3 separate regions of the Homo sapiens genome follow, and regions 1 and 3 are each linked to region 2. Evidence: fine-mapped expression QTL. A gene starts in region 2. Each other region holds a variant in brackets. All regions are shown on one strand. Distances are from middle to middle. Region 1 overlaps RXFP1 (relaxin family peptide receptor 1). Region 2 holds the start of ETFDH (electron transfer flavoprotein dehydrogenase). Region 3 overlaps RXFP1 (relaxin family peptide receptor 1).

Evidence for each region.
Region 1: its variant is fine-mapped to the expression of ETFDH in tibial artery (GTEx, PIP 0.98).
Region 3: its variant is fine-mapped to the expression of ETFDH in spleen (GTEx, PIP above 0.99).

The regions. Positions count from the first base shown.
Region 1 is chr4:158,631,957-158,640,145 of GRCh38, forward strand. It overlaps RXFP1 (relaxin family peptide receptor 1), which reads left to right. Exons shown (of 18, transcript NM_021634.4): 12 at 1,449-1,520; 13 at 6,052-6,123; 14 at 7,304-7,375. Among named protein-coding and RNA genes, the nearest start is that of C4orf46, 36 kb to the right of the region's middle. The variant G/A (reference allele first, on the strand shown) is at 4,413.
Region 2 is chr4:158,667,339-158,675,520 of GRCh38, forward strand. ETFDH (electron transfer flavoprotein dehydrogenase) reads left to right here and starts at 4,958. Exons shown (of 13, transcript NM_004453.4): 1 at 4,958-5,152. The coding sequence starts at 5,119. It overlaps C4orf46 (chromosome 4 open reading frame 46), which reads right to left and starts at 4,549. Exons shown (of 2, transcript NM_001008393.4): 1 at 4,278-4,549; 2 at 1-2,430. The coding sequence starts at 4,463. The coding sequence ends at 2,275. RefSeq lists enhancers at 3,528-4,164, 4,165-4,801, 4,644-5,203, 4,805-5,306 and a silencer at 4,154-4,223.
Region 3 is chr4:158,543,262-158,551,450 of GRCh38, forward strand. The region is part of intron 1 of RXFP1 (relaxin family peptide receptor 1); the gene reads left to right. The region is part of intron 3 of RXFP1-AS1 (RXFP1 antisense RNA 1); the gene reads right to left. Among named protein-coding and RNA genes, the nearest start is that of RXFP1-AS1, 17 kb to the right of the region's middle. The variant G/A (reference allele first, on the strand shown) is at 4,536.

The DNA.
Region 1 (8,189 bases), 35 kb before region 2:
GTGGCATATGGCTGTAGTCCCAGCTACTCAGGAGGCTGAGGCGGGAGCATGCTTAAGCCCGGGAGGTGGAGGTTGCAGTGAGCCGTTTGTGCCACTGCACTCACACAATGCGGTTTTGATTTCATCTCCTAAGGTACAGTAAGCTATTGAAGGAGATTCCAACTCTTTATGAAAGAGATGGAATTTTTGAGTAATTCCTTCAGTTGTCTAATCAGAACAATCTGTTGACAATTCACCGATAAATATGTAACTAACAGCAATAGTCTCCAGGTTCAGTTTGCAGCAAAGACGTTTATAATATTTATCACATTATATTAGCCACTTATTTTTAGTTTTAAAAACTCAGTCTAAAAATTGTCCTACCCTTCGAGGTCAAAAAATCTAACGTTTGCCTTATAAGCAAACCAGCATATATAACAAATACATCTATTCATTCTCCTACCTATCCCAGTGGCAACAAATATGATTTGGAGATGAATAGAAGAAAAGGTTAGACTTTCCCTTAGTATCTCTTGATCACCTTACAGAGCTCAAGTCTATTGAAACTTTTTCTTGTATAAAAGAATCTGAGGCCTTTCACATGAGAGCTGCCACTGTCAAAGCTACCACGAGAGGTGCTGCTGTCAAACACCTTTTTAGGACTAAGGTACGAGGTCATACCATGTTAAGCAGACCCTCTACACATACATGAGATGGCATGCAAAGTATCCTACCCCAGGATAATATGAGAGCCTGTGTATATCAGCTGTGGAAGAAACTCGAACTTGAAATAATACACTTCCATAATAATCACAACAATCCTAAGCGGAAGAAAAAAATTAAGATCGCAAACCATGCATCTATTCTAACACACAAAAAAAGAGAACAAAGGAAGAAGGGGCACAACACAGAAATCAAAAGAATGAGAAAATGCGATTGATTAAAACCAGATCAGGCCAGGTGCAGTGGCTCACGCCTGTAATCCCAGGACTTTGGGAGGCTGAGGCGATTGGATCACAAGGTCAGGAGTTCGAGACCAACCTGGCCAACATAGTGAAACCCCGTCTCTACTAAAAATACAAAAATTAGCCAGGCGTGGTAGCACACACCTGTAATCTCACCTACTGGGGAGGCTGAGGCAGGAGAATCACTTGAACCCGGGAGACAGAGGTTGTGGTGTGCCAAAATCGCACCACTACACTCCAGCCTGGGTGACAGAGTGATACTCGGTCTCAAAAAAAAAAGATCAAATACCATCAAGTATTTGTCTTCCAGGGGATGATGAAATGGAATAAAATATTTTTATATTTTCCAACTTTGCTCCTTTTTTAAATTTTTAGACTTCTGGTGATTAATATAACTCACCAATGGCATTGTTGAAAAGTTGTATAGTGGTTTCCTAATGAATTTCAGAACAATGAGTAAAGTCTTAAGAAAATAATATCACATATTTGCAATTATTTCTCCAGGGATTTAGGAAGTAATAAGATTGAAAATCTTCCACCGCTTATATTCAAGGACCTGAAGGAGCTGTCACAATTGTAAGACTGATGTTAATTTTGCCACCTCGTTTCTTTATTTTATTATTTTTTAAATTGTAAAATATGCATAACATAAAATTAGCCATTTTTAAGTGTGTAGTTGAGTAGCATTAGCTACATTCACATTGCTGCCCAACCACCACCACCATCTACCTCCAGAAGTTTTTCATGTTGCAAAACTGAAACTCTAGCCACTAAACACTAACTTCCCACTCACCGTTTCCCCATCCCCTGGCTACCACCATTCTACTTTGTGTCTGTGTGAATTTGACTACTCCAGATACCTCATAGAAGTAAAATCATGGAATATTTATCTTTTTGTGACAGGCCTATTCTACTTAGCATACTGTCTTCAAGTTTCATTTCTGTTGTAGCAGAAATGAATTTCCTTCCTTCTTAAGGCTGAACAATATTTCATTGTGTATATGTATTGCAGTGTTTATTCACCCATCAATGGACATTTTAGTTGCTTCCATCTTTTGCCTATTGTGGATAATGTTGCTATGAACATGGGCGTACAAATATCTGTTGACTCTGCTTTCAATTTTTAGGTACCTACTCTCAAAAGTAGAATTGCTGTTTCATACATTTCTGTCATTTTATTTTTAATGCATGTTTCATTCTGTTTTCCATAGGAGTTTAACCATTTTACATTTCCGCTAGTAGTATACTAGGGTTTCCATTTCTCCACATCCTTCCCAACACTTGGTATTTTCTGTTTTTTTGATAATAGGCATGCTAATGGATGTGAAATGGTATCTCACTGTGATTTTGTTTTGTGATTCCCAGTGATTAGTGATGTTGAGCAACTTTTCATGTGCTTATTGGCCATTTGGATACCTTCTTGCAGAAAAATCTGTTCAAGTCATTCACTCATTTTTCAATTGGATTGTTCAGGTTTTCTGTAGTTGTTAGATTGTTGGAGTTCTTATATATTCTGGATGTTAACTTCTTTTCAGATACATGATTTTCAAATATTTTCTCCCATTGTATGGGCTGCCTTTTCACTCTATTATGGTGTCCTTTGATGCACAAAAGTTTTTAATTTATGTATAGTCTAATTTTTAAATTTCTTTTTTTGTTACTTATGCTTTTGGTGTCATATCCAAAATAACACCAAATGTCATTGGTGTCATGTCATGAAGCTTTTCCTGTATGATTTCTTCTAAGAGTCTTATAGTTTTTAGCTTTAATATTTAGGTCTTAAATCCATTTTGAGTTAACTTATGTACATGGTGTAAGGTAAGGATCCAACTTCATTCTTTTGCATGTGGATGTCCAGTTTTCTCAACACAATTTATTGAAAAGACTACTCTTTCCCCATTGAATGTCCTTGGCACCCTTGTTGAAAATCATTTGACCATATATCTGTGAGTTTATTCCTGAGCTCTCTATTCTATTCCATTAGTCTACATGTCTGTATTTCAGCCAGTACCACACTGATTGCTGTAGCTTTGTAGTATGTTTTGAAATTAAGTGGTGTAAAATCTCCAATTTTGTTCTGCTTTTTTCAAGATTGTTTGGCTATGTGGGCTCCCTGCATTTTCCATATGAATTTTAGGATGGATTTTCATATTTCTGCAAAAAAAAAAGGCAATGGGATTTTGGCAGGTTGCTTTGAATCTGTAGCTCACTTTGAGCAATACTGACATCTTAATATTAAGTCTTCTGATCTGTGAACATAGCATGTCTTTCCTTTCATTGGTGTCTTCCTTATTTTCTTTCAGCAATGTTTCGCAGTTGCCAGGGTATTTATCTTTCACCTCCTTGGTTAAGTTTATTTAAGTATATTATTCTTTTGATGCTATTGTAAATGGAATTCTTTTCCTCATTTTCTTTTGTGATTATTCATTGCATATAGAAACACAGCTGATTTTTGTGTGTTAATTTTATATCCAGGAATGTTGATGAATGTTTTAGTTCAAATGGATTTCTTTTTAGTTAAATCTTTAGGATATTCTACATATAAGATTACATCACCTGTAAACAGAGATCATTTTTTTCTTCTTTTACAATTTGGATGCCTGCCTTTCACTTTTTTTTCTTGCCGAATTGTTCTAATTAGGACTTCCAACATTATGTTGAATGAAAGTGGTAAAAGCAGGAATCCTTGTCTTGTTCCCACTCTTAAGGGAAAGCTTTTGGTCTTTTACCATTGAGTGTGGGTTTTCATATACATCCTTTATTATGTGAGGTAGTTTCCTTTTATTTTTAGTTTGCTGAGTCCACTTCATTTTTTTATACAACCCATTGGTCATTGTCATTCTTTCTCTCTTTCCTTCTTTCTGTAACTGTGGCTCCCCCAGCAGTTCCTTCCATCCCCCATGTAACTTATGGTCTAATCTTCAGTAAATATTTTTGTTTATTTCCTCTTTTTTTTTAATTTTGTTTTTGTAGAGATGGGGGCCTCATTATGTTGCCCAGGCTGCTCATATTGGACTTCAAGGCTCATGCCATTCTCTCACCTCGGCCTCCCAAAATGCTGCGATTACAGGCATGAGCCACCACACCCAGTCTAAATATTTTAAAAAGAGAAATTTTCCTGAGAAGTTTCCTTTAATCAATGATTCTTGTTTCAAGGTGTTGTTTTTCAAAGATTCTGAAATTTTCTCCATTTAAATTTACCTTTCAGTTCTCTTTAAGAAGGCAGGTGCTTGTAGTCCCAGTGAGTTGAGAAGCTGGGGCAGGAGGATCCCTTGAGCCCAGGAGTTTGAGTACAGCCTGAGCAACATAGCAAGTCCCCATCTCTAAAAAATTAAAATATAACAATAAATTCCCTTTAAAGTCTACTTTTCATTTCATGTTTCATGACTTAAGATTTATTGTAAAATATATGATATATTATTCCATTAATTCAAATTTTGACTAAATGAGATTATTTTATTTCATTTT[G/A]TTTAAACCATATCTGATCTTAGGCAAAATGTGAAGTAGATGCGGCTCTTTCTCAGTCCCCTACCACTTCTCTGGTGGCAGCCCTTTCTTGACAGCTCCGCCTTCATGCCTATGTTTTATTAGGTCTCAGTCTATCACTACCGTAATCACAGAGTATCTACCACAAGCTGGGCACTGTTCTAAGTGTTTTATCTTAATTAATTCACTTACATGTACAATCAACCCTGTGAGGCCAATGCTATTGCTATCTCTTTATTTCACTGACAAACAAAAATTGTATATATTTATCAGTACAACATGATGTTTTGAAATATGTATACATTGTGGAATGCCTAAATTGGGCTAATTAACATATGCATCATCTCACATACTTATTTTTTGTGGTGAGAACACTTAACGTCTACTCTCTTAGCAATTTTCAAGAATACAATACATTGTTATTTGCTATAGTCAGCATGTTACACAATAGATGTCTTGAACTTATTCCTCTTTTCTAAGTGAAATTTTTGTACCTTTTGACCAATATATTCCAATCCTTTCCCACCTGCCTCTAGTGACCACCTTCTACTCTCTACTTCCATGAGTTCAACTTTTTTAGATTCCACATATAAATGAGATCATGTGGTAATTGTCTTTCTATGCCTGACTTACTTCATGTAGCATAATGTCCTCCAGATTCATTCATGTTGTTGCAAATGACAGGATTTTCTGTGTTTTTTAAGGCTGAATAGTATTCTATTGTGTATGTATACATATTTTTTTATCAAGTCATCCTTTGATGGACACTTGGGTTGAATCCATACCTTGGCTATTATGAATAATGCTGCAATGAATATGGGAGTACAGAAATCTCTTTAATATACTGATTTTATTTCCTTTGGATATATATCCAGTAGAGGAATTTCTGGATCATGTAGTAGTTCAATTTTTGATTTTTGAGGAAGCCCCATACTATTTTCCATAATGGTTGTACTAATTTATATTCCCATCACCAGTATGCAAGGGGCAACCTTTTCTTCAAATCATCCTCAACCCTTATCTTTCATCTTTTTGATAAAAATTATTCTAAAAGGTGTGAGGTAATATTGTGGTTTCAGTTTGCATTTCTCTGATGATTAGTGATGTTGAGCACTTTTTCATATACCTGTTAGTCATTTATATGTCTTCTTTTGAAAAATGTCTATTCAAGCCCTTTCCCTAATTTTTAACCAGCTTATTTGTTTTCTTGCTGAGTTGTTTGAGTTCCTTACACATTTTGGGTATTAACCACTTACCAGATATATGATTTGCAAATATTGTCCCCCATTACACAGGTTGTCTCCTCACTCTGTTGATTGTTTCCTTAGCTGTGCAGAGGCTTTTTAGTTTTATGTAATCCCATTCATCTATTTCACTTTTGTTGCCTATATTTTTGGGGCAATATCCAAAAAAATCATCACCCAGGTTAATGTCCTGGGGCTTTCCACCTATGTTTTCTTCTAGTCGTTTTATAATTTTACAGTTTAAGTCTTTCATCCATTACGAGTTATTGTATACTTTCGTTCATAAATATGTTAAAGTAACCCAAAATAAACAGATTCACTCGCTTTACTCATGTAGTTTTTAGAAATGACCTATTGCTGCTTTTTTTAAAAAACAGGAATCTTTCCTATAATCCAATCCAGAAAATTCAAGCAAACCAATTTGATTATCTTGTCAAACTCAAGTCTCTGTAAGTATTCACATATGGGGATAGTTTTATGATAAAATTGTTTTTTAAATACTAACAATGTATATTTTTATATATTTACTTCAAATCATAAGCTTTATTTCCAAGACATTAGTTTAGCTCCACAAAAACATATGGGTGCTTGCTGAACTATAAACAGACAACTATTAGTTTTATCTTATATACTTGTAAATTAAAAAATAATGATGAATTATTTTATATTTTTCTATAAGTCATTAGGAGCTTATGTTGATTTGTTTGCTTTGACCCTTCAAAGACATCTGTGCATATTCACTCTCTTAACACTGGGTATTTTATAATTTATTATAAGTGTTTTTACCCCAAGATGGAATATGCTAGATTATATAAATCCTTACTTGTACCACACACACACAAAAAGACAAAAATTCTGTTAGAGCCAAAGAATTGCCTTAAAAGATAAGCTTCAGGGCTGAGTGCAGTGGTTCACACCTGTAAACTCAGCACTTTGGGAGTCCGAAGCAGGAGGATTGCTTGAGATCAGGAGTTGAAGAACAACCTGGGCAACATAGGGAGATGCTGCCTCTACAAAAAAATAAAAATAAGCAAATTAGTTGAGTGTGGTGGCATGCACCTGTGGTCCTAGCTACTTGGGAGGCTGAGGTGGGAACATTGCTTGAGTTGGGAGGTTGAGGCTGCAGTAAGCCCTGTTCATACCACCACACCAGCCTGGGCAACAGAGGAAGACCCTGTCTCAAAAAAAAAAAAAAAAGGTAAGCTTCAGTTCATTTAATTTGAGTGTTCCCTCAGTAAAATGACATTTTATTAGAAAAAAATTTATTAATTAAAAATTACTAGGAAATTTTCAAGGATGTAAAGCATCCTCTGCTATTGTAATATTGTACAAAAGATAATGCTTGTGCATTTATTCCACACATATTTATTGATTAGTTAAAATGCACAAAGCATTGTGCCATGATCTGTGAGGATCTGAAAAAAATCAAATAAGGAAGATAATACGTGTATAAATAACACAATCAGAAGGAGGAGGATTTGGGGAAGTGGGTGGGTTGAGTATAATTATTTTGTTCAGAGTAAGTGTTAACTAAAAGCATTTTATTAAATTGTCCTTCACAGAAACTCAATTTATTAAACCATGTATAATACATGTTCCTTTGATTGATTATTAATTTGATATTTTTAGCAGCCTAGAAGGGATTGAAATTTCAAATATCCAACAAAGGATGTTTAGACCTCTTATGAATCTCTCTCACATGTAAGTAGATATTTTATTGTTTTTCACTGTGATGTTAATATTTGTTTCCATGTGTATTATGATAATGCATCCAATCTATTAATATTTTCTACTAATTTGCCAGCTATAAACTGAAAGTTTGTGTTCCTCCAAAATGTATATATTGAAATACTAACCCCAATGCAATGGTACAAGGAGGTAGGGCCTTTGGGAGGTGACTAGGTCATGAGGACAGAGCCCTCATGAGTGGGATTAGTGCCCTTAGAAAACAGACTCTGGTCCAGGCCAGTGGCTCATGCCTGTAATCCCAGCACTTTGGGCGGCCGAGGTGGGTGGATCACCTGAGGTCAAGAGTTCAAGACCAGCCTGGCCAACATGGTGAAACCTCGTCTCTACTAAAAATACAAAAATTAGCCAGTCGTGGTGGTGATTCCAGCTACTCAGGAGGCTGAGGCAGGAGAATCGCTTGAACCCTGGAGGTGGAGGTTGCAGTGAGCCAAGATGGTGCCACTGCACTCCAGCCTGGGCGACAGAGTGAGACTCCATCTCAAAAAGAAAAAAAAAGAAAAGAAAAGAGACTCTGGAGACGACCCTTGCCCCTCCACCTTGTGAAGACAGACAGAGAAGATGGCCATCTATGAAACATGTGGTCCCCTACCAGACACTGAATCTGCTGGCACCTTGATCTTGGTCTTCCCAGCCTCCAGAACTGTGAGAAATGAACATTTGTCGTCTAAGTCACTCAGTCTATGGTATTTTTGTTACAGCAGCCAAGTGGACTGAGACATGTCTAAACAATAATTAAAACTCTTAAACCTTTGATATTGGGTGAGAT
Region 2 (8,182 bases):
TGAATAGGACTATTTTTATGACATTTCCTATACAAAAACCAGAAAAAGCAAATCATTATGAAAGATTGGTAAAATTACGTTTTTAAAAATTCAAGATTTCATAACCAAAATATGAAGACAAACCAGACTAAAAAAGATAATTGGAACATACATAACAGATCATTAGTATTCAAAATATGTAATATCTAAAAACTGACAAGTAAAAAAAACAACATAGAAAAATGAGCAAAAATGCCTGTAATCCCAGTGCTTTATAGGAGGAGGCGAGATGGGAGGATTGTTTGAGTCCAAGTTTAAGGTTACAGTGAGCTATGATCCTGCCACCACACTCCAGCCTGAGCAATAGAGTGAGATCTTGTCTCTTAAAAAAAAAAAAAAGAGTAAAAGATATGGCCTCAGAAATCACACACTGCATTTGCTCAATATCCTGGTAGTTACAAAAGTCAGCACTGTAAAATGCAGGAGAAGGCTATACTGGGGCATGAACACCAGGAGGCCAGGGATCACTGGGGCCATCTGGAAGCTGGCTACCACATATATAAAACAATATTTTGTAGCGCTTTTAAAAAATATATTTGTATTAAAAATATAAAAACACATGCTATATTATGCCCCCTCTAGTGGTTACCTCTGGGGACTCTGGGGAGGGAGGAACGGGACAGGATCAAACAGGTAACAAAGCAAACTTCAAATGTATCTAACATTTGCAATTACATGCATATGTGTGTCTGAAGAAAATATAGCCAAATGCTAACATTTATTACATCTGCATGGTAGAAATACACGGATTTTCTTGAAATCATTTACCTTTCCTATATCTTTGAAATATGTCAATAAAGTTTTAAGGTAATGAATCCAAACAAATGGAAATAAAATGTGCTTTTAATAATAATTTATTTTTACACATTTTAAAAATTGCAATTTTCAGGAGATGTAAGAAGAATATTTTTCTAATACTGAAATAAGCATATCTTTGGTATAGAAATCACACCCTATGTGTTTATCTTTAACTAAAAAAACTAATCAAGAACTATGACCTAATATGTTAAACAAAACTATTCTTTGCCCATCCATCTGTCCCCTCTCATAGCCCCATTGTGGGGCATTAGAATATAGTTCTGTACCTATCTCCATATCTACAAAGAATTAAGATGTTGTATCAAAAATGTCCAGAAGTTATATATGGTAGAGAATTAGTTGGCTTAATCGTTGACACACAACACAAAACACCAAAAGCAACATAAGATACAGGATGCAAAATAGAACACTGTCACTAAGATCAAATAATACAAAAAAAATCACATCATTTAAATTTGATGCATTGCAAACAAAGTAACTTCTTTAGAATTATTATGTACACAACTTGCAAAGCTCAAAAAGTAATAGCACAGAGCCATAAATCTGATAAGGCACTTTAAAGATAGCAATCAAACATATACAAATATCAAATACAAACACTGTTAAACTGCAAAAGCAGTAACCACAGAAATAAATAGGGAAAAAATATGCATTCTTTCTAAACAGTCTTTCCCTTTCTGAAGTAAAGTCTTTAAAAAAAAAATCAAACAAGTACAAAAAATATTTATCATATATTTTTAAAACCTATCATCAAAGTCCAAATCTCTGTAAAAAAAGAATGTTTTTCTTCAAGTCAAAAAAGTTCAGATTCATACATTTCCTAGAGAAACAATGACAGTCTTCATGCTAAATATAGGAAGAAAAAAAGCTTTCAATTATGTTTGTTAACTCTTTTATTCAACAAACATTTAGTGAATGTTGTGTGACCCTGTTTTAGGTGCTGGGGATATAGAATAAAGACACAATCATTAGCTGTAGACAACTTAGCCTAACGGAGCTGGATCCACCACTGGCAACCTTAAAGTTACCTCCCTTGGTCCTTAAGATGAAACGCAACTTCAAAGTCTGCCATGCTTAGCATCTTGTTGCAAAACAAATAATGGTCTACCTAGTTTGCTACTGGTAGCACTGTGGCTCTATTAATATTAACCGTCTATTGATGAAGTTAACTTTCATAAAGGATTCTATGAAAGTTCAGAGGCATAAAGTATTTAAGGACAAACAAGTACTGGTCCGCAACAAAAATAGCATCGGTATTCTGCTTTCACAAAAACCAAGAAAACCAAGAAAAATTTCATTCTGAGTATATACAGAACTGCTGGACAGAGGTCATCCTATATGTGTGGTACATGTACAAAATATGACATAAGAAGTATGAATTATTGCAGTCATTATTAAACAACGAAGTATGCCAAATCAGTCATCAGGTTTCAAAGAATCATAGCCTTCTTTCAAGAGGTCCCGCCACGTTTTAAGGAAACGTGCATTTTCTGTACATTTGAAGGCAAGTTCTTCCACTTGAGCTGATACTGCAGATGTGGCTTCAAGAAGTTTGGTTAATGAAAAGGCTGCCTAAAAAAAAAAAGTCAAACATAATTTTATTTTTAAAATTCTCATCTCATTTTATAAGCAGGCTGAAAATAGCTTAAGGCTTTGAATCCAATGCCCATGTTATTTTCTTTCAAAGTAATCAGTTTTCAAACTACAGCACTGGCTCTTTCACGGAACCTAAGAAATTCTTTAATATTGAGTAGACTTTGAAGAAACAGGTCTGCTAGAAAAATATCCATTATGTCTGAGATATGACAAATCAGTATAGTTGTTTTCTTTTTTTTTTTTTTTTTTTGAGACGGAGTTTCGCTCGTTTCCCAGGCTGGAGTGCAATGGCGCGATCTTGGTTCACTGCAACCTCCGCCTCCCGGGTTCAAGTGATTCTCCTGCCTCAGCCTCCTTAGTAGCTGGGATTACAGTCATGCGCCACCACGCACAGCTAATTTTGTATTTTTAGTAGAAACAGGGTTTCTCCATGTTGGTCACGCTGGTCTCGAACTCCTGACCTCAGGTGATCCGCCTGCCTCAGCCTCCCAAAGTGCTGGGATTACAGGCGTGAGCCACCGTGCTTGGCCCAGGATTGCTGTTTTCTATGAAAATACACTAGAGTCTCAGCTCAACAAGATGACTTGGACCCCTTGACACTAAGCGCCAGATATATCTGAGAGATTTCATCATAAATAATTCTTACTGCTATTTGGGTAACATGGGCATTGACCTGTGAACACTTTAAACAATGAAAATGTATAGATCAAAGAACAGAAACTCTGAGCTCTGACAAATAACATTAAAAAATCACACACAAATGCAGAAAACACTCAGCTCCTGGTGGAAAATTCACTTTTCAGCCAAACGTTTTCTTCACCAATGATATAAAATAAAACAGTGTTCCTCAATAACACATTAGCACTTCATTCTACATATTTACTTGCAATCAGTTTGTTCTGCAAAAATAAAAGCTGGTTAAGCACTCTAGTCATCCTTAAAAAAAAATACTTGCGGAGCAATGAGATAATCTAGTTCATCCCCTAGTTTCCAATCTGCAGGAAAGGTCAGGCCACAGAACTCTCCCAGGTTACACTCTACATACCTCATTCCACTTGACCCACTCAAGAGAACATAAAACTCCCCTTCCCTGTCTTCTCCCCTCCAGTGGTGTGTGAGTTACGGTTGGGAGGTGGGGTGCTAGTTTCTGGGGATTCGAGATTTAACAGAAACTATCCTAAGTATGCATTCTAGCAATCATACAAAGGGAGGAGTCCTGAACTAAACCGTCAAAGAAGCCAATCCACGTGACCTAAACCCTTCAAGCTGGGTCCAGCGCTAAGCAGGCCTGGGGCAGACAATGGCATTATCAGCTGTCCCTGGGCAGGTGGCCAACTAGAACAGCAGGCTCTAAGTCCCATGGAAAGAAATCACAGCCTGATCTCAAGTACCCACAGAAAGCCAGCAAACTCATGCAGTGAAAACTATTCTCCGAAACCCATGCAATGAAAACTATTCTCCGATGGGAAAGGAGGAGGCAGAGAGCCAGCAACAGGCAGCGCAGAGCTGCGTGGCTTCGGGTTACTGCGGATGATTGAAACCAGAAGGCGAGACAAAAAGAAACCAGTGAGGGGTGGGGCGGGTGGAAGGAAAACCCCTTAAGACTCCTCACCACTAAATCTAAAGGGGGAACCCTCAGAGAGGGGTGGCACTTTAGCTGCTGGCATCCCCCCCGCTTCCCGCCCGCACGCTCTGGGGCGCAGAAGGGCCGGTCGTCCCGGGTCATGGGGGTTGGGGGACCGATTCCCTAGCCTCGCGAGCCCCGCCGCCGCCGGTCTTCCCAGAGGCGCCGAGGGGGGACGCGGTCCCGACACCACACTCACGTCTCCGATCTGCAGCTCCACTTCCTCCAGCTGGTCCACCGTTGGGCCGCTGCTCCTGCTCGGAACTGGCCAGCCCAAACTCACTGGGCCGCCCGGGGAAGATGCTGCAGAGGCGTCTGAAGAGGAGGGAGAAGAGGGAGGCGGCGGGGGCGGCGAAGAAACCTGCAACTCCTCAGGGTCGGCCATGGGGAAGGGTTGGGACCGCGGAATCCGACCCGAGAAGCCGAACCGACACCAACTGTCTTTTAACCACTCGCGCCCAAAGCCGAAAGGCCCCGCCTCCTAACGCCAGAAATCCCGCCCAGTCTCCTCGTGGGTCTCAGCCCCGGACCACAAAGACGTTTCATTTTTCGGGACAGCCAATCATATGAGTCAATTCACCTTAGGCAACTCACGGCTCCTGCGCGAGCCTCCAATCGATCTCGAAGGGCACTCGTAGAGAAAACTACACCTCCCAGGAAGCCGTGTGCGTCGCCCCGCCTTCTACTGCCTTTCACTGCGCGTGCGTCGTGCTGTGGGATTCGCGGACCCCTCTGGCCGCGCTGTGGCTGTTTCACCGCTCCCCGGCTGGGACTTGGAGTCCCTTATCTTTCCCTGGTTTGGTACATGACCCGGAAGCCTCGGCTGGCCGTTGCGTCATCCATGGCGCCGGCGCAGAGCGAGAAGGAGGTGGGAACGCCGTGAAGCAAGAGCGGTCGGCAGAGCGGGGAGGCGAACTGCAGCAGAGTTCTTGCTTTCCGGCAGGTGATGGCGCCCCCCGCGGCCTAGAGGTCCAGCGCCCGCCGCGAGCAGCGGACAGTCCTCCTGTTGTGTCCGACCGAGAGTCCTGGTGACTTTGAACATGCTGGTGCCGCTAGCCAAGCTGTCCTGCCTGGGTGAGAGGAAACGGGCGGTGGGGATAAGTGGAGGAGTTAGGGCAAAAGGGACAAGGCCGGTCCTGGGGGCTGTAGGCACCTCTCGCCCCTTCTCTCATCAGCTTTCTCAGGCTATCTAGGGCAAAGGTCACGCGCTGTCAGCCTGTTGGGGGACCCTGGCTTCCTCCCTCTGGGGTTGCCCCAGTTGGTAGAATTAATATCTAGGCTAAAGGTCAAGGGCGGGGAAAACTTGTCAACACGCCCTCGGCATCACCACCACCTGTCAACACACACACACCTCGGTGGACTCCTGAACTGAGGCTTCCCAAATCCTGGTTCTAATCTTCAAACCTCTGTTGGAAATGGAAAAAAAAAAATCGTATTTGCCCAGTTTTTCTCCCTGGTCCTGACCTGACTTTCGTCTTCGGAGCCATTCTAGTTCAGTCTAAAGAAATTGAAGTCTGATCTGTCACATCATGGTTAACATTCATATGTTGACCAAGTCACCCAAGTGTATCTGGAGCCAGTTTTTCTGCGTTGTCTAAAATTAAGGGCTGGGCGTGGTGGCTCAAGCCTGTAATCCCAGCACTCTGGGAGGCTGAGGCGGATGGATCACCTGAGGTCAGGAGTTCAAGACCAGCCTGGCCAACATTGTGAAACCCCATCTCTACTAAAAATACAAAAATTAGCTGGGCGTTGTGGCCCACTCCTGTAATCCCAGCTACTCAGGAGGCTTAGGTAGGAGAATCACTTGAACCCGGAGGTGGAGGTTGCAGTGAGCTGAGATCGCACCACTGCACTCCAGCCTAGGTGAAAGAGCCAGACTCCGTCTCAAAAAAAAATTAAATTAAATTAACTCTAAGGGCTTTATCGTGTTATGGGTATTCTGTGAACCATCGTGACAGATGAAGTTGGATGGTCTTTTTAAAGTTTTACTTAAATTTTTGTTGTTGTCGTTAATTCAAACAGAAAAGTTCCCTAAAGGATCTCATATTCTGTCATAACTGGCTTAATTTTTTTAAATCTTTAGTTTACTTAAGTTTTGGTGATAGAATCATTAAGTCTAAATATTCCAAATTCAAGGATATTCTTATGAAATTTCATGAAAGTAGAATTTTGTTAAATTTGGCTTCCATATATTAAGAAATTAGAACTTTGTTTAAATTTCATGTCACCCATGCATTTTTTGCTGCACTTAATGTATGGATAAGATGGTGTTTGGAACGTTAAAGTAGTCAGATGCTATCTGCCTTAGAGCCTAATTTAGATGCAATCAGCCTTGGGCCCAGTGCTAACCAAATTCCACTACCATTTCTGTTTTCTTTGGATGGCAATTCATTGCCATTTTCGTAGCCTGCTGGCATGAAAGAGGTAGACACCAATGTGCCATCAGTGTGACTTTGATATGGTGATGCTATGAGTTCAGTGGACTTTGTGACTTCTCTTCTCAACCACGGAGACTGAATATTCCAATCTCTAAAGTGAGATATCAGATGTGTTTTCAGAAAAGGGGTAAAGGTTGTGACTTTTTTTTCCAATCCTTTGGAGAAATTCAGACTACACAGTTCCAAATATTCTCAAGAAAATCAGTAGCTATACAAGCAGTAGAAATAGTTTGTCATATGTCAGTCATCAGTTTTCAGAAGTAAATAACTTCTATGCACTAAACTACAATGCATTGAAAACTAAATATTTTAAATATTCGTTATAGTGTATTTGAACTCTTGAACTGAGTTCTAGAATATCTTTATGTATTTAATATACTTTTTTTTTTCCAAAATTGAGGATAGGTGAATAGTTATCTAAGGCTTAAAAAGTGTTGCCAATATAGTTTTTTTGTTTTTTGGGGTTTTTTTGACACAGTCTTGCTCTGTTGACCAGGCTGGAGGGCAGTGATGTAATCTCAGCTCACTGCAACCTCTGCCTCCCGGGTTCAAGTGATTCTCGTGCCTGAGCTTCCGTAGTACCTGGGATCACAGGTGCCCACCACCATGCCTAATTTTGTATTTTTAGTAGAGACGGGGTTTTGCCATGTTGGCCAGGCTGGTCTCAAACTCCTGGCCTCAAGTGATCCTCCTACCTCAGCCTCCCAAAGTGCTGGGATTATAGGCATGAGCCACCATGCCTGGCCCCAGTGCTATAGTTTTTAGTATGCGTAAGTAAGTTCATTTCTTTGCCACTTTAAAAAAAATGACCAAACACAGATTTTTATTGCCTTTTCACAGAAAATTACTCTGAAAAGCATTAATCTTTTATAGTACCATGTGTCAAGGACTATCTAATATTTAGTCAACAAATATGTATACCTAACATTAGGTTTTCACGTACAACAAGGTCAGTGCTTTTGGAGCATGCTATCTGCTGGAGAATACAGACAACTAAAGACATTTATATTTTTACCCTTTTTTGGTCACATAAATGGTTTAAATTTTTAGTCTAATGATATTGTAACTTTTTAGATTTTTATCATTCTTAGAAAATAACTTTGAAAAATCCTAGATTCTAAAAAAAAAATTACCTGTTTTCTTCATAATATTTTTGTGTGTGGCTGTAAATGCTCTTTTTTATAACAGCTTTAATAAACTTTAATAAGATATGTCACAAATCATACAATATATACTATTTAAAATGGACAATTCAATGGTTTTTAGTATAGTCAGAGTTGTGAAACCATCACTGCAGTCTATTTTAGAACATTTTCATCACCCCAAAAAGAAACTATTCACTCCCAAGCCCCTTCCAGCCTTAGACAACAGTTAATCTACTTTCTGTCTCTATAAACTAGCCTATTCTGAATATTTCCTGTACATGGAAGCATATACTATGTTGTCTTTTTGTGACTGGCTTCTTTCACATAGCATATTGTTTTCAAAGTTCTATGTGGTAGCATATATCAGTATTCAATTTCTTCTTATTGCTAAATATTTCATTATTTGGATATATCACTTCTTACCATTTATTGATCAACATTTGGGTTGTTTCTACTTTTTGGCTGTTATAAATAATTCAGCTGTTGGTCAGGTGTGGTGGCTTACACCTGGAATCCCAGCG
Region 3 (8,189 bases), 120 kb before region 2:
CCTAATAGATGGAAAGATGGCTACTGTCACTCCAGACATCAAGTTCATGTTCAAAGCAGGAAGAAGGGGAAGAGTGATGTAAAGCTGGATTTTCCTCCAGTTACCAGGAAAGCAATGGCTTTTCCAAAAATTTCCCAAGAAGATTTCTAGTTTTTAGGTCTCATGGTCAGAATTGGGTCACACAGTCCCACCTCGCTGCCAAGGAAACAGGGAAAGCCAGAAACAGGAGTCACCTTATTGCTTGGGGCAGTCACCTCATCTAATGGTGCAGAACACAGTGTCTCCACAAACAAGATGGGGATTGTGTTAACAGAGGAAAATGGGAAATAGAGAATCGGTAGCAACCAACAGTTTCCCTGAGCCCTCCCAGTCAGTATTTATATTTATTTATTCCCCACTTCTCTATTCCATTTCATATTTCTTCTCAGTTTTTCTTCATTTATCTTCTCTCCCTAGTACTTCCTCCTGAAGAATGAACTTTCAAACTTTTTTATTAACACTCCATCTCCCACCTAGAATCAAATAGTATTACAACAGCTGGTACTGCCTCTTCCTTCGACACAGAAGAAAACCTAAAATCCAGTAAGACAGAGTGGCATGCCAAATTTGCCCATCAATTTATTGGCACATTCAAGAATAAAGCAAAACTCTACTGAATATCGATATAGTAGTATCTGCCTCTGAGGATTCTTGGTGCATATTTTTGCATTCTGCCATGTTTCGTCCATTTTGCCCCTACCTTGGGCATTTAAATATAAAGATTCCCATGAGATCGGATCAATTCAGCTGTTTATTTCTAGAAATGTCTATAAAGAGAAGAACTAACAAGAGAACCATCTTTTTATTTTTTTAATTTACTTCCTAAATATAAATGAAGGAGAATCTAGAACCACTGTCTTCATTGGAAATCATTGTTCCAAATGAACCGCAAGTCTGAGTTTATAAAGCTGCCATCTCCAATATGTCTGTTGAGAAATATGTCTATTTACATACATCATGTTTGTTTCTGACCTTGTGGGACAATAACTTGGAATGCCCTGAGCAACAAAAACATAAAACACTCTGATGAGACAGCATCTCATCCTTGCACTGAAGGATTTCAAAAGAGGGACAGATCACCCAGAATGGACATGGTCATAGAGGAAGTAAGTTAGAAGCTATAATTGACCTTCATCTTTTTTTTTTTAATTTTATTTTATTATTATACTTTAAGTTTTAGGGTACATGTGCACAATGTGCAGGTTTGTTACATATGTATACATGTGCCATGTTGGTGTGCTGCACCCATTAACTTGTCATTTACATTAGGTATATACCCTAATGCTATCCCTCCCCCTACCCCTACCCCCCAACAGTCCCTGGAGTGTGATGTTCCCCTTCCTGTGTCCAAGTGTTCTTATTGTTCAATTCCCACCTATGAGTGAGAACATGAGGTGTTTGGTTTTTTGTCCTTGCAATAGTTTGCTGAGAATGATGGTTTCCAGTTTCATCCATGTCCCTAAAAAGGACATGAACTCTTCATTTTTTATGGCTGCATAGTATTCCATGGTGTATATGTGCCACATTTTCTTAATCCAATCTATCATTGATGGACATTTGGGTTGATTCCAAGTCCTTGCTATTGTGAATAGTGCCGCAATAAACATACATGTGCATGTGTCTTCATAGCAGCATGATTTATAATCCTTTGGGTATATACCCAGTAATGGGATGGCTGGGTCAAATGGTATTTCTAGTTCTAGATCCCTGAGGAATCGCCACACTGACTTCCACAATGGTTGAACTAGTTTACAGTCCCACCAACAGTGTAAAAGTGTTCCTATTTCTCCACATCCTCTCCAGCACCTGTTGTTTCCTGACTTTTTAATGATTGCCATTCTAACTGGTGTGAGATGGTATCTCATTGTGGTTTTGATTTGCATTTCTCTGATGGCCAGTGATGATGAGCATTTTTTCATGTGTTTTTTTGGCTGCATAAATGTCTTCTTTTGAGAAGTGTCTGTTCATATCCTTCGCCCACTTTTTGATGGGGTTGTTTGTTTTTTTCTTGTAAATTTGTTTGACTTCATTGTAGATTCTGGATATTAGCCCTTTGTCAGATAGGTAGGTTGCTAAAATTTTCTCCCATTTTGTAGGTTGTCTGTTCACTCTGATGGTAGTTTCTTTTGCTGTGCAGAAGCTCTTTAGTTTAATTATATCCTGTTTGTCAATTTTGTCTTTTGTTGCCATTGTTTTTGGTGTTTTAGACATGAAGTCCTTGCCCATGCCTATGTCCTGAATGGTATTGCCTAGGTTTTCTTCTAGGGCTTTTATGGTTTTAGGTCTAACATGTAAGTCTTTAATTCATCTTGAATTAATTTTTGTATAGGGTGTAAGGAAGGGATCCAGTTTCAGCTTTCTACATATGGCTAGCCAGTTTTCCCAGCACCATTTGTTAAATAGGGAATCCTTTCCCCATTGCTTGTTTTTGTCAGGTTTGTCAAAGATCAGATGGCTGTAGATATGCGGCATTATTTCTGAGGGCTCTGTTCTGTTCCATTGATCTATATCTCTGTTTTGGTACCAGTGCCATGCTGTTTTGGTTACTGTAGCCTTGTAGTATAGTTTGAAGTCAGGTAGCGTGATGCCTCCAGCTTTGTTCTTTTGGCTTAGGATTGACTTGGCAATGTGGGCTCTTTTTTCGTTCCATATGAACTTTAAAGTAGTTTTTTCCAATTCTGTGAAGAAAGTCATTGGTAGCTTGATGGGGATGGGATTGAATCTATAAATTACCTTGGGCAGTATGGCCATTTTCACGATATTGATTCTTCCTATCCATGAGCATGGAATGTTCTTCCATTTGTTTGTATCCTCTTTTATTTCATTGAGCAGTGGTTTGTAGTTCTCCTTGAAGAGGTCCTTCACATCCCTTGTAAGTTGGATTCCTAGGTATTTTATTCTCTTTGAAGCAATTGTGAATGGGAGTTCATTCATGATTTGGCTCTCTGTTTGTCTGTTATTGGTGTATAAGAATGCTTGGGATTTTCATACATTGATTTTGTATCCCGAGACTTTTCTGAAGTTGCTTATCAGCTTAAAGAGATTTTGGGCTGAGACAATGGGGTTTTCTAGGTATATAATCATGTCATCTGCAAACAGGGACAATTTGACTTCCTCTTTTCCTAATTGAATGCCCTTTATTTCCTTCTCCTGCCTAATTGCCCTGGCCAGAACTTCCAACACTATGTTGAATAGGAATGGTGAGAGAGGGCATCCCTGTCTTGTGCCAGTTTTCAAAGGGAATGCTTCCAGTTTTTGTCTATTCAGTATGATATTGGCTGTGGGTTTGTCATAGATAGCTCTTATTATTTTGAGATACATCCCATCGATACCTAATTTATTGAGAGTTTTTAGCATGAAGGGTTGTTGAATTTTGTCAAAGGCCTTTTCTGCATCTATTGAGATAATCATGGTTTTTGTCTTTGGTTCTGTTTATATGCTGGATTACGTTTATTGATTTCCATATGTTGAACCAGCCTTGCATCCCAGGGATGAAGCCCACTTGATCATGGTGGATAAGCTTTTTGATGTACTGCTGGATTCGGTTTGCCAGTATTTTATTGAGGATTTTTGCATCAATGTTCATCAAGGATGTTGGTCTAAAATTCTCTTTTTTGGTTGTGTCTCTGCCCGGCTTTGGTATCAGGATGATGCTGGCCTCATAAAATGAGTTAGGGAGGATTCCCTCTTTTTCTATTGATTGGAATAGTTTCAGAAGGAATGGTACCAGTTCCTCCTTGTACCTCTGGTAGAATTCGGCTGTGAATCCATCTGGTCCTGGACTCTTTTTGGTTGGTAAGCTATTGATTATTGCCACAATTTCAAAGTCTGTTATTGGTCTATTTAGAGATTCAACTTCTTCCTGGTTTAGTCTTGGGGGGGTGTATGTTTTGAGGAATTTATCCATTTCTTCTAGATTTTCTAGTTTATTTGTGTAGAGGTGTTTGTAGTATTCTCTGATGGTAGTTTGTATTTCTGTGGGATCGGTGGTGATATGCCCTTTATCATTTTTTATTGCATCTATTTGATTCTTCTGTCTTTTCTTCTTTATTACTCTTGCTAGCTGTCTATCAATTTTGTTGATCCTTTCAAAAAACGAGCTCCTGGATTCATTAAATTTTTGAAGGGTTTTTTGTGTCTCTATTTCCTTCAGTTCTGCTCTGACTTTAGTTATTTCTTGCTTCCTGCTAGCTTTTGAATGTGTTTTCTCTTGCTTTTCTAGTTATTTTAATTGTGACGTTAGGGTGTCAATTTTGGATCTTTCCTGCTTTCTCTGGTGGGCATTTAGTGCTATAAATTTCCCTCTACACACTGCTTTGAATGCATCCCAGAGATTCTGGTATGTTGTGTCTTTGTTCTCGTTGGTTTCAAAGAACATCTTTATTTCTGCCTTCATTTCATTATGTACCCAATAGTCATTCAGGAGCAAGTTGTTCAGTTTCCATGTAGTTGAGCAGTTTTGAGTGAGTTTCTTAGTCCTGAGTTCTAGTTTGATC[G/A]CACTGTGGTCTGAGAGACAGTTTGTTATAATTTCTGTTCTTTTACAATTGCTGAGGAGTGCTTTACTTCCAACTATGTGGTCAATTTTGGAATAGCTGTGGTGTGGTGCTGAAAAAAATGTATATTCTGTTGATTTGGGGTGGAAAGTTCTGTAGATATCTATTAGGTCTGCTGGGTGCAGAGCTGAGTTCAATTCCTGGGTATCCTTGTTAACTTTCTGTCTCGTTGATCTGTCTAATGTTGACAGTGGGGTGTTAAAGTCTCCCATTATTATTATGTGGGAGCCTAAGTCTCTTTGTAGGTCACTAAGGACTTGCTTTATGAATCTGGGTGCTCCTGTATTGGGTGCACATATATTTAGGATAGTTAGCTCTTATTGTTGAATTGATCCCTTTACCATTATGTAATGGCCTTCTTTGTCTCTTTTGATCTTTGTTGGTTTAAAGTCTGTTTTATCAGAGACTAGGATTGCAACCCCTGCCTTTTTTTGGTTTCCATTTGCTTGGTAGATCTTCCTCCATCCCTTTATTGTGAGCCTATGTGTGTCTCTGCATGTGAGATGGGTTTCCTGAATACAGCACACTGATGGGTCTGGACTCTTTATCCAATTTGCCAGTCTGTGTCTTTTAATTGGAGCATTTAGCCCATTTACATTTAAAGTTAATATTGTTATGTGTGTGTTTGGTCCTGTCATTATGATGTTAGCTGGTTATTTTGCTCGTTAGTTGATGCAGTTTCTTCCTAGCCTTGATGGTCTTTACATTTTGGCATGGTTTTGCAGTGGCTGGTACTGGTTGTTCCTTTCCTTGTTTAGTGCTTCCTTCAGGAGCTCTTTTAGGGCAGGCCTGGTGGTGACAAAATCTCTCAACATTTGCTTGTCTGTAAAGGATTTTATTTATCCTTCACTTTTGAAGCTTAGTTTAGCTGGATATGAAATTCTGGGTTGAAAATTCTTTTCTCTAAGAATGTTGAAGATTGGCCCCCACTCTCTTCTGGCTTGTAGAGTTTCTGCCGAGAGATCAGCTGTTAGTCTCATGAGCTTCCCTTTGTGGGTAACCCGACCTTTCTCTCTGGCTGCCCTTAACATTTTTTCCTTCATTTCAACTTTGGTGAATCTGAAAATTATGAGTCTTGGAGTTGCTCTTCTCGAGGAGTATCTTTGTGGCGTTCTCTGTATTTCCTGAATCTGAATGTTGGCCTGCCTTGCTAGATTGGGGAAGTTCTCCTGGATAATATCCTGCAGAGTGTTTTCCAACTTGGTTCCATTCTCCCCATCACTTTCAGGTACACCAATCAGACGTAGATTTGGTCTTTTCACATAGTCCCATATTTCTTGGAGGCTTTGTTCGTTTCTTTTTATTCTTTTTTCTCTAAACTTCCCTTCTCGCTTCATTTCATTCATTTCATCTTCCATCACTGATACCCTTTCTTCCAGTTGATCGCATCGGCTCCTGAGGCTTCTGCATTCTTCACGTAGTTCTCGAGCCTTGGCTTTCAGCTCAATCAGCTCCTTTAAGGACTTCTCTGTGTTGGTTATTCTAGTTATCCATTCATCTAATTTTTTTTCAAAGTTTTTAACTTCTTTGCCATTGATTTGAATTTCCTCCTGTAGTTTGGAGTAGTCTGATCGTCTGAAGCCTTCTTCTCTCAGCTCGTCAAACTCATTTTCCGTCCGGCTTTGTTCCGTTGCTAGTGAGGAGCTGCGTTCCTTTGGAGGAGGAGAGGCGCTCTGCTTTTTAGAGTTTCCAGTTTTTCTGCTCTGTTTTTTCCCCATCTTTGTGGTTTTATCTACTTTTGGTCTTTGATGATGGTGATGTACAGAGGGTTTTTGGTGTGGATGTCCTTTCTGTTTGTTAGTTTTCCTTCTAACAGACAGGACCCTCAGCTGCAGGTCTGTTGGAGTTTGCTAGAGGTCCACTCCAGACCCTGTTTGCCTGGGTATCAGCAGCAGTGGCTGTAGAACAGCGGATCTTGGTGAACTGCAAATGCTGCTGCCTGATTGTTCCTCTGGAAGTTTTGTCTCAGAGGAGTACCCGGCCGTGTGAGGTGTCAGTCTGCCCCTACTGGGGGGGTGCCTCCCAGTTAGGCTGCTTGGGGGTCAGGGACCCACTTGAGGAGGCAGTCTGCCCATTCTCAGATCTCCAGCTGCATGCTGGGAGAACCACTACTCTCTTCAAAGCTGTCAGACAGGGATATTTAAGCCTGCAGAGGTTACTGCTGTCTTTTTGTTTGTCTGTGCCCTGCCCCCAGAGGTGGAGCCTACAGAGGCAGGCAGGCCTCCTTGAGCTGTGGTGGGCTCCACCCAGTTCAAGCTTCCCAGCTGCTTTGTTTACCTAATCAAGCCTGGGCAATGGCAGGAGGCCCTCCCCCAGCCTCTCTGCTGCCTTGCAGTTTGATCTCAGACTGCTGTGCTAGCAATCAGCGAGACTCCGTGGGCATAGGACCCTCCGAGCCATGTGTGGGATATAATCTCCTGGTGTGCCATTTTTTAAGCCCGTTGGAAAAGCACAGTATTAGGGTAGAAGTGATCCAATTTTCCAGGTGCTGTCTGTCACCGCTTTCTTTGACTAGGAAAGGGAACTCCCTGACTCCTTGCACTTCCCGTGTGAGGCAATGCCTCGCCCTGCTTCGGCTCACACCTGGTGCGCTGCACCCAGTGACCTGCACCCACTGTCTGGCACTCCCTAGTGAGATGAACCCGGTACCTCAGATGGAAATGCAGAAATCACCCATCTTCTGCATTGCTCAGGCTGGGAGCTGTAGACCGGAGCTGTTCCTATTCAGCCATCTTGGCTCCACCCCTGACCTTGATCTTAAAGGGTAAGATCTAAATAGGTGAAAAAGAAGATATTCAGGAACACTGCCATGAGTCCAAAAAAGGGAGGTAGAAACATCAATAACCTTTCAGGGCTCATAAGCTAGTCTATATGGGGAATTAGTAAAGGCACATTGGTTAAGAACACGTGTTCTGGAATCAGACGGATCTGCATCTGAATCCCATTTCCACCACTTACTGGTTCCATGATATCCAAGCAATTTATTCCTCTATGCTTTAGCTTCCTAAACTATAAAATCATGATAATATTAGAACTTATTTAATGGAGTTTTATGAAGATAAAGTGAAACAAGGCATGCAAAGTGCTTAGCCTGGTACCTAAAACATATTAAATGCTCTAAAACATGAAGAAAAAAAAAAGCAACTACTGACCAACATGAAAGGAGTCAATGTAACGGACTATTAAGTTTTAAAACTGGGTTGTGGACCTAAGTGTCCATCAACAGATGATGGATAATGAAAATGTGGTATATATACATAATGGGATATTATTCAGCCTTTTAAAGGAAAGAAACTCTGGCATTTGTGACAACATGGATGAACCTAGACAGCATTATGCTATGTGAAATAAGCCAGGCACAGAGAGACAACTACTGCAAGATCCTTTTTATATGTAGGATGTGAAGTAGCCAAACTCATAGAAGTAGAGAGTCGAGTGGGGAGTACCAGGGTCTGGGGAAAAATGGAGAGATGTTGGCCAAAAAATGTGAGGTTTCTTACACTTCTCTTTGTTGAAGGACCAAGCAAGTGACTGAAACAAATAAGAATTAAAAAATCAGTTCCAGAGATCTGTCGTACAGCATGGTGACTATAGTTA